Linked DNA regions of Homo sapiens. The protein of the gene in region 2 interacts with the protein of the main gene of each other region in a pairwise test. Each region holds a gene or a part of one and is shown on either strand. Other genes may lie near its edges.

Region 1 (3,819 bases), on a different chromosome or scaffold from region 2:
CAGGTGCAGTGGCTCAAGCCTATAATCCCAGCATTTTGAGGCCAAAGCTGGTAGATTCCTTGAGCCCAGGAGCTCCAGACCAGCCTGGGCAACATGGCAAAACTCTGTCTCTACAAAAAGTAGAAAAATTAGCCGGATGTGGTGGCGCACGCCTGTAGTCCCAGCTACTTGGGAGGCTGAGGTGGGAGGATCACCTGAGCCCAGGGAGGTTGAGGCTGCAGTGAGCCGTGATTGCATCACTGCACTCTAGCCTGGTGACAGAGTGAGATCCTGTCTCTAAAAAAACCCAAAAACCAAACAAAAAAATAAAGTTCTTTCTCCACTAAAAATTTAAAAAAAGAAAGAAACTTAAAAAAAAAAGACTCAAATTACTAGAATCAGAAATAAAGAGAAGCCATTACTACTGACCTTACAGAAATAAAAAAAAGATTATAAAGGAATACTATGAACAATTATATACCAACAAATTAGGCACATTTATAGAAAGACATAAACTACTCAAGAAGAAAACCGAATCAAGAAGAAAGAGATAATCTGAATAAGCCTATATCAAGTAAAGATATTGAATTAGTAACCAAAAAATATTCACAAGAAAAACCAAGGTCCAGATGGCTTCACCAATAAATTCTACCACACATTCAATGAAGAATTAATACCAATTATTCAAAAACCATTCCACATAGAAAAGAGGGAACATTTCTCACTCATTTTGTGATGTCACCATTACCCTGATACCAAAATGAGACAGACATTAAAAAAACAAAAACAAAGCAAAGAAAACCTACAGACCAGTATATCTTAGGAATATGGCTGAAAAAAACCCCTCAGCAACATATAAAAATAATTATATGCCATAACCAAGTGAGATTTATCTCAGAAGGTTAGATTAATATCTAAAAATCAATTAATAAAATACATCATATCAACAGAATAAAAAAATTACATGATAATCTCAATAGAAATAGAAGAAGCACTTGATAGAATTCATTACCCTTTCATATAAAAATGCTCAACAAACTAGGAAACAGAAGGGAACTTCCTCAACTTGATAAAGAGCATCTATGACAAATCGACATCTTTGTTTTTTTTAGATTGTTTCGCTGTTGTCTCCCAGGCTCAATGGCTCCATCTCGGTTCACTGCAACCTCTGTCTTCTGGGTTCAAGCCATTCTCCTACCCAAGTAGCTGGGATTACAGGCGCCCGCCGCCACACCTAGCTAACTTTTGTATTTTTAGTAGAGACGAGGTTTCACCATGTTGGCCAGGCTGGTCTCAAACTCCTGACCTCAGGTGATCCACCTGCCTTGGCCTCCCAGAGTGCTGGGATTATAGGCGTAAGCCACCTCGGCTGGCCAACAAATCAACATCTAATAATGTCACGCTATATACATCATACAGGTAACATCATATATCATGGAGAAAGACTGAATGCTTTCCCCCTAGATCAGGAACAAAGCAAGGCTGTCCATCCATTTTCATTACTTCTAAATTCAACACTGTATTATACTACAGGTTTTAGCCAGAGATATTAGACAAGAAAAAGAAATAAAAGGCATCCAGATTGGAAAATAAGTAACACTATCTCTATTTGCAAAAGACATGATCTATAAGAACATCCTAAGGAATCCACTAAAAAACTATTAGAACTAAAATGAGTTTAGCAAGGGTGCAGGATACAAGATAAATATATTAAAATCAATTGTATTTCTATACACTGGCAATCAACAATCCAAAAATGAAATTAACAATTTCATTTACAAAACATCAAAAAGAATAAAATAGTAATAAATTTAACAAGAGAAGTGGAAAACTTATACTCTGAAAACTATAAAACATTGTTGAAAGAAATTAAATGAGATCTAAATAATTGGAAAAATATCCCATATTCATGTATTAGAAGACTTAACCTAGTGAAGATAATAATATGTCCCAAACTGATCTACAGATTCAATGCAATTCCCATCAGAATCCCAGCTGGTTTCTTTGTAGAAAAACTGATTCCAAAATTAATATAGAATTGCAAGAGGTCCAGAATAGACAAAACCATATTGAAAAATACAAAGAGGACTCACGCTTCCTGATTTCAAAACTTACTACAAAACAACAGTAATCAAGACAGTGTGGTGGCACAAGGATAGATGTATAGATCAATGGAAGACAGTTGAGAGTCTAGAAATAAATCCATACATGTACAGTCTAAATGATTTTTTAATTGGATGCTAACTCCATTAACTGGAGGCAAGAATATTCTCTTTAAAAAATAGTGTGGGGACTATTGCATGTCCACATGCTAAAGAATGAAGCTGGACCCTTACCTCACACCACATACAAAAATTAACTCAAAATCAATCAATAATCTAAATGTAAGAGCTAAAACTATAAATCTCTTAGAAGAAAACACAGGGGTAAATCTTCCTGACCTTGAATTTGGCAGAGGAGATAGATACCAAGGAACGAACAAACAAAAAAATAGACACACTGGACGTCATAAAAGTTTTTTGGGTCAAAGGACATCATCAAGAAAGTGAAAAGACAATGCACAGAATGGGAGAAGATATTCGCAAATAATACATAAGAGACTTGTGTCCAGAATTGATGAAGAATTCTCACAATAATAAAAAGACTAATAATCCAATTTAAAAATGAGCAGAGTATAAACAGACATTTCTTTCATGAAGATATACAAATGGCCAGTAAGCACATGAAAAGATGACCAACATCATTACCAATTAAGAAAATGCAAGTTAAGTTAATGAGATACCACTTCATACCCACTACAATGGCTAGGATAAAGAAGTCAGATAATAACAAATGTTGGTAAGAATGTGGAGAAATTGGAACCCTCGTACACCGCCTGTAGAATATAGATTGGTATGAGCCACTTTTGAATACAGCCTGACCTTTCTATGGCCATACCACCCTGAACGCACCCGATCTCATCTGAATGTAGTCTGATACTTCCTGAAATGATTAAATGTAGAGTTATCAAATGATCTGGCAATTTCCCTCCTATTATTTCCCAGGGAAATAATATGTCCCAGGAAAAAACAAATGTCCATACAAAAACTTGTACATGAATGTTTATGGTAGCATTATTCATAATAGCCAAAAATGTGCAAACAAGTGTTTATCAACTGACAAACGAATAAATAAAATGTGGTATACCCACATAATGAATTATTAGGCTATAAAAAAAATAAAGTACTCTCCATGCTACAACACAGGTGAATCTTGAAAATATTATGCTAATTGACTGAAAGAAGCCAGTAACAAAAGGCCACATATTATTTGAATCCATGAATATGCCAGGTCCACAATAGGGAAATCAACAGAGACAGAAAGTAGATTAGTGGTTTCTTAGGGCTGAAGGGTGGGGTGGGGTGAGGAGATAGGAGAGTGTTAGGAAAAGGATAACAAGGTTTCATTTTGAGGTGATGAAAATGTCCTAAAATTGACTATGGTGATGGTTGCACAAATCTGTGAGTATACTAAAAAACACTGAATTGTCCACTTTCAATGGGTGGATTGTATGGGTTGTCAATTATATCTCAATACATATGTTAAAAAATTTAAATGCCCAAATATTTTTGAACACTGCTTCTCTTTATGGTTTTACATCAAGGAGTTTGCAGTTTTGCAAATGGAAATAGATATGTAAAGCTTAATGAATTCATCCAATTACTCAAGTAATTTTCAATATATTAAGAAGGTAGCTAGAAAACTTTAGAACATTGAATGCCCATCTGGTCAACACTCTAAAATAAATCCACTAAATCACAGCTCAATTTTCCTCTATAAACAGTTATTTTTTTCTGATAC
Region 2 (4,609 bases):
AAGAAAAATAAAAAAAAAGAAAATATCTATGGTACTTGCCTCTAAGAATTCAAGGTTTTTTAAAACATGCTTCTTTCAACTGTGCTGTAAATTGCTAACTTTTAAAATTGATGTAACTTACTATTATGAGGAGAAAATTAGCAAAGTTTGCCTTCATTAGGTGTGAATTGCAATGACTTTGAACCCACTATGCTTTCTAATTACTGTCAAAAATAGGCTTTTGATGTGAAAATAGCAATGAGGTACCTAAAGAGGAGAGAGCTCACCTCCAGTGTTAACTCCATCTGCTGTGCGGCTCTCTTCTCAGTTTAAATCTGCAATTCTTTGCTTAATGCCAGTATCTCTTCTTGCCATAAATCTCTTTGTTCTATTCTATACATAATGCTCTTCTACCCCTGGCCAAATCCTCTCCACATTAAACATGACAATCATAGCCACAGTTTGGCACTTTTTGGCATTTTTCTCTTTTTGGCCACAATGGCTAGGAGTGATAACTTTCAAAAAGCAGAAAAGTCTCTACCTATCCAACAAAATGCTCTAGAAACTATATAACCACCATTAATAAATAAATATGGCTTGGCTTTTACAAAATGTTTCCCTGAGAGGTTTCCAGATCACTAGAGAAGACAAAGCTTTACTGGGACAAATCATGCGGGGTTGGTGCTGCTGGCACTGCCTGGTTGCTGACTGCCTGGGGCACAAGCAGTGCCTCCGTATCCTGTCACACCTCCGACTCTGCACATGCTGTGTTCCCGCTGCCTCATCCCTCAAGACCCAGTTCAAGCATCTCTTCAATTGTGTGGTGGTTCTGACCTCCCGAAACTGAGCTGGGCATTCTCTTTGTGTCCCCACCACTCCTGTGTATGCTCCAGGCTTGCGGTGGTCTCCCAGGACCATGGTTAATCTGTGTGCTTCCCTCTCTCCCCTGCTGCCTGGGATCCCCAGGAGAGCAGAGAACATGCAGATGTACGCCCTTGGCCAATCACAGTGCCTAGGAAATAGAAGGTATCTGATAAGAGTTTATTTACAAGGTAGTGTTTGCATTTTACAGGGAAAAAAAAAAGAGTTCAGGGCAGCAAGAAGAAAGAAGATGAACAATTCCGACATCCATATCCAGGCAAAATGTAGACAGCCCAGAGATTTCAGAGATTTAGTGGGCACGGTCAGGAAGTGGGGAAGATAAAACAAATCATGTAAGTGGGGCTAATGCAACCTTTTTCTATACTCGTGAAAACCCAAGGACCCAAGCCTTCCCATCTAGTTAAAGACTTTCCTCAGCCTCTCCCCTTGAATCACCGAATCCTAGACTCTCAGACCTAGAAGTAACCAAAGAACTCAATCAATGTATTTCAATCAACACACACCTTATTTCTCTATTATTTATTTATTATTATTTTTTAAGTGTCATCCTGTGTGCCAGGCACTGGAAACTCGAAGAGTAAAGTCCTTTCCTTGTAAAAATGCTGTTTAATGGAAACAGACATTTAGATTATGGTATGAGAATTAACTTCTAATTCAACATGGTACCTGGCCCTTCCTGAGATGACCTTCAAAAGATACTGAATTAAAAATAAATAAATAAATAAATAAATAAGTGGGGTGAGGTATTTTAAGCCACAGTGATGAAAAGATGGAAGGGATGCCATTAGCTAACTAGAGGTTCAGGTTTCATAAACTTCCAGAAGCCAGACTAGAGAGGGAATGTGGAGCTGACACAGGAGAAGGGTGCATACCTGGGGGGACCAACTGGCCCTGAGGAAATGCAGAGACTCAGATACGCCAGACAAGTGTTGGGAGGAGTGCACAGCAGCGCTGGGACCAGGGGTCTTCTGTGAAATCCTGTCTACAGAGCAGGTAGCTCCTCTACCTCCCACCCCAGGGCCACATGCAGATCTCCCAGGAGCCAGGCGTTCACCCCAGGCAAAAAATACCGAAAGCTCTTCTGATACAAATTGAATCAACCAACAAGAACTAGAGCCGCTAACGCACAGTCTGGCATTCAGAGGCCTCCAGAATGCCAGCTGATTCTGTCCTGAGCACCCCAAAAGTGACACCTGCCAGACACCAGCGCCCCCTGTGGACACAACACTCCCAGTCAACCTTCTCTGCCTCACTCTTAAACACACATGAAAATCCAAGGGTCATGTAGCACTTAAGGAAGGAAACATGAAAACAACATCCAGGAGAAGAAACAGAAGAAAAGACACCAAAGCAATCAGAGAACAACCAGGTATATGTGAAGAAGAAGCACACATCCCCCTCTAATTACCATCCTCAGGAAGACTGAGGGCCACACTCTGTTTCCCAACCAACCCAATCACTGAGCCACTCAACAATCACACAAGAGGAGCTCTCACGGGTGAGCCTGTTGATCTGGCTTTACTGCTGAGGGGCCCCCAGGTAAACTGAAGAGCTGTGCAGAAAGGCTGGGGGTATGAAAGCCGCACGCTCCCCACTTCAGCACACAGGGTCAGCAAGAGTTGCAGTGATGTTCCCACATACAGTCAGTTCAGCTATAACGCTTGTTTTGAAACTGCAAATTTGTACGGACAGATTGACATATTACAGAACAATTTGAATACCTTGTGGGTTTTGTGTGTGCCTGGTGATTTCCTCTGCAAGAAACACAAAAGTAAGTTCAGAAAAATGGTGCCCAACTGACCCCAGCTGCTTGAGAATATACAAAAGGCGCACACACACCAGCCTCAAGCACCTACCACCTACCTCCAGTCACCACACGTGTTAAAAGCCATGTCCTTCCACACATGGTGTCAGAACTTTCCATAGGGCTCCAGGTCTCTGTCCTTCTTCCATTTGGCAGGTCCTCAAGAGCTGCAAGCCTTCCATTGAAAAAACTTTATTTCATTTACCTTTGCACTTTGAGGTAAAATCCCATCTCTACTGCAGTATTTATGTATCTCTTAACCATTTAGCATGTGTAAAACGGTGCTGCCCTTTTTATTAGGTTTTTATCTTTTTAAAAAATGTGTCATTGATGAAGTTTTTGAGAGCTGTTGCCCTAAGCCTGTATTCGTCATAAACCCTGCGGTTTTTATTGCCCAATCTTGCATGGTGCAATAATTTTTAGGAACACATATATCAAGTTATAGTAGAATTGATTATGTGTTTACATTTCTGCCTGCAAGCTACAATTTTCTCCTAGGGGAGAACATGGCGGGAGAGCATGGTGTGCAGATTCTAGTTTAGAAAATATGGTCCACACAACTGAATTTCACACCAGTCACCCCTAGTTCATTGTTTCTGGCTACCCCAAAACGTTCATCACCGGCTTGCCTTTCTCCCTGCACTAAGCTAGAATCTCAAAGAACCAATTGTTGGGTTTTGTTGGTAGCAATCTGTGTATCATCCATTTTTTCCTCCATCAAACACAAAATTAAATTCAAGCATAAATAATGAAATTGTTGTTCCCGGCTTCTGTTTACAGAGTCTCAGGGACGCTGTGGAGCTGGGTGTGCCTGGGTCCAGTCCCTGCCCCCTCACCCACCGGAGCTGTGTGACCTTGGACAGCCTCCCTCACTCCCTGAGCTCCAGTTTCCTCAGCCATAAACAGAGATAACAGTGCTGACTTCAAAGCTGACTTTGTGAGGATTAAATGAGATAATGTAGTAGAGTATTTAGTACTGTGGCTGGCACTTCAGTGTTTTCCCATTTATCTGTTTTTTTCAAGATGAGTGATCTCTTTGCTGATCATAAACATATTCCTCCATCTGTCTTGTGTTATTCGCCTGCATTGAAATCCCATCCCAATCCCCGTCTCTATTTGAAAGTGGAGCTTAAAAATTGCAAAAATGAATAATTGGGATGTGCAAAACCTCTTAACTTGTAGCACCAAGTTTTTTGTCTCATGTTGATCAGTCTCTCTCTTCTTGCATTTCTCTCCCATTAGTTTGGAGTTGCCATTCATTCCTTCATTTATTCATTCACTCAACAAACATTTATGGGTGCCTGGTATCTACTGGCTATGTGACTGACTTAACTTCCCAGAGCCTCAGTTTTCTTGGCAAAATGAAGATAATAATACCTCTATCATAAGGTTGTTGGAAGGCTTTCCATGACACCAGGACCGTAAAGCACCTTTTACACCGTCTGCCATATGGCAGGTGCTCAACAAAGGATATCTTTAAGCAGTATCATCACGATGACAATGGACAAGCCATATCCCTAACAGGGCTTAAACCTGGATAACAAGAACACTGTTTCCACTGCGCTAGTGGGGACAAGCACACACATCGCTGGGAAGATCTGCAAGCCTCCCTCCTCCCACAGACCCAAACATGCTGCTGCAAATGTCTCACTGGCTACAAAACAATGAGTCTGATTACGACCCACAGAAATGAAAAGGCAGCAAACTTGTTTAGGTATGATTCATCATTGTCTGCTGCGGCAATCAGAAGTATTTTGGTTGCTTCTAGGTCAGAATGACCCAGTTGCCACACTTTTTTTCACTGCTAAAGTTCGTAATGAACCTTTAAACAAAAACTAAAGGCGTAAGGAAAGATAACTACTTTGTGGCTTTTGCTCAAAGTGAGGACGTTATCAGCTCTGCCCTTCAGAAGCAAGCCCTGATCAAGGAAACCATTCACACTTG

What was found.
Region 1: the proteins of GREB1 (region 2) and HMMR interact in a two-hybrid assay, tested with the Homo sapiens proteins (one large-scale study listed by BioGRID and IntAct).

What each region holds. Positions count from the first base shown.
Region 1 is NC_000005.10:163,484,332-163,488,150, reverse strand, and holds part of HMMR (hyaluronan mediated motility receptor), read right to left. Parts: intron 1-3,819. UniProt on the Homo sapiens protein: Receptor for hyaluronic acid (HA). Involved in cell motility. When hyaluronan binds to HMMR, the phosphorylation of a number of proteins, including PTK2/FAK1 occurs.
Region 2 is NC_000002.12:11,532,370-11,536,978, reverse strand, and holds the start of GREB1 (protein GREB1), read right to left. Parts: upstream 2,935-4,609; 5' UTR 2,725-2,934; intron 1-2,724. UniProt on the Homo sapiens protein: May play a role in estrogen-stimulated cell proliferation. Acts as a regulator of hormone-dependent cancer growth in breast and prostate cancers.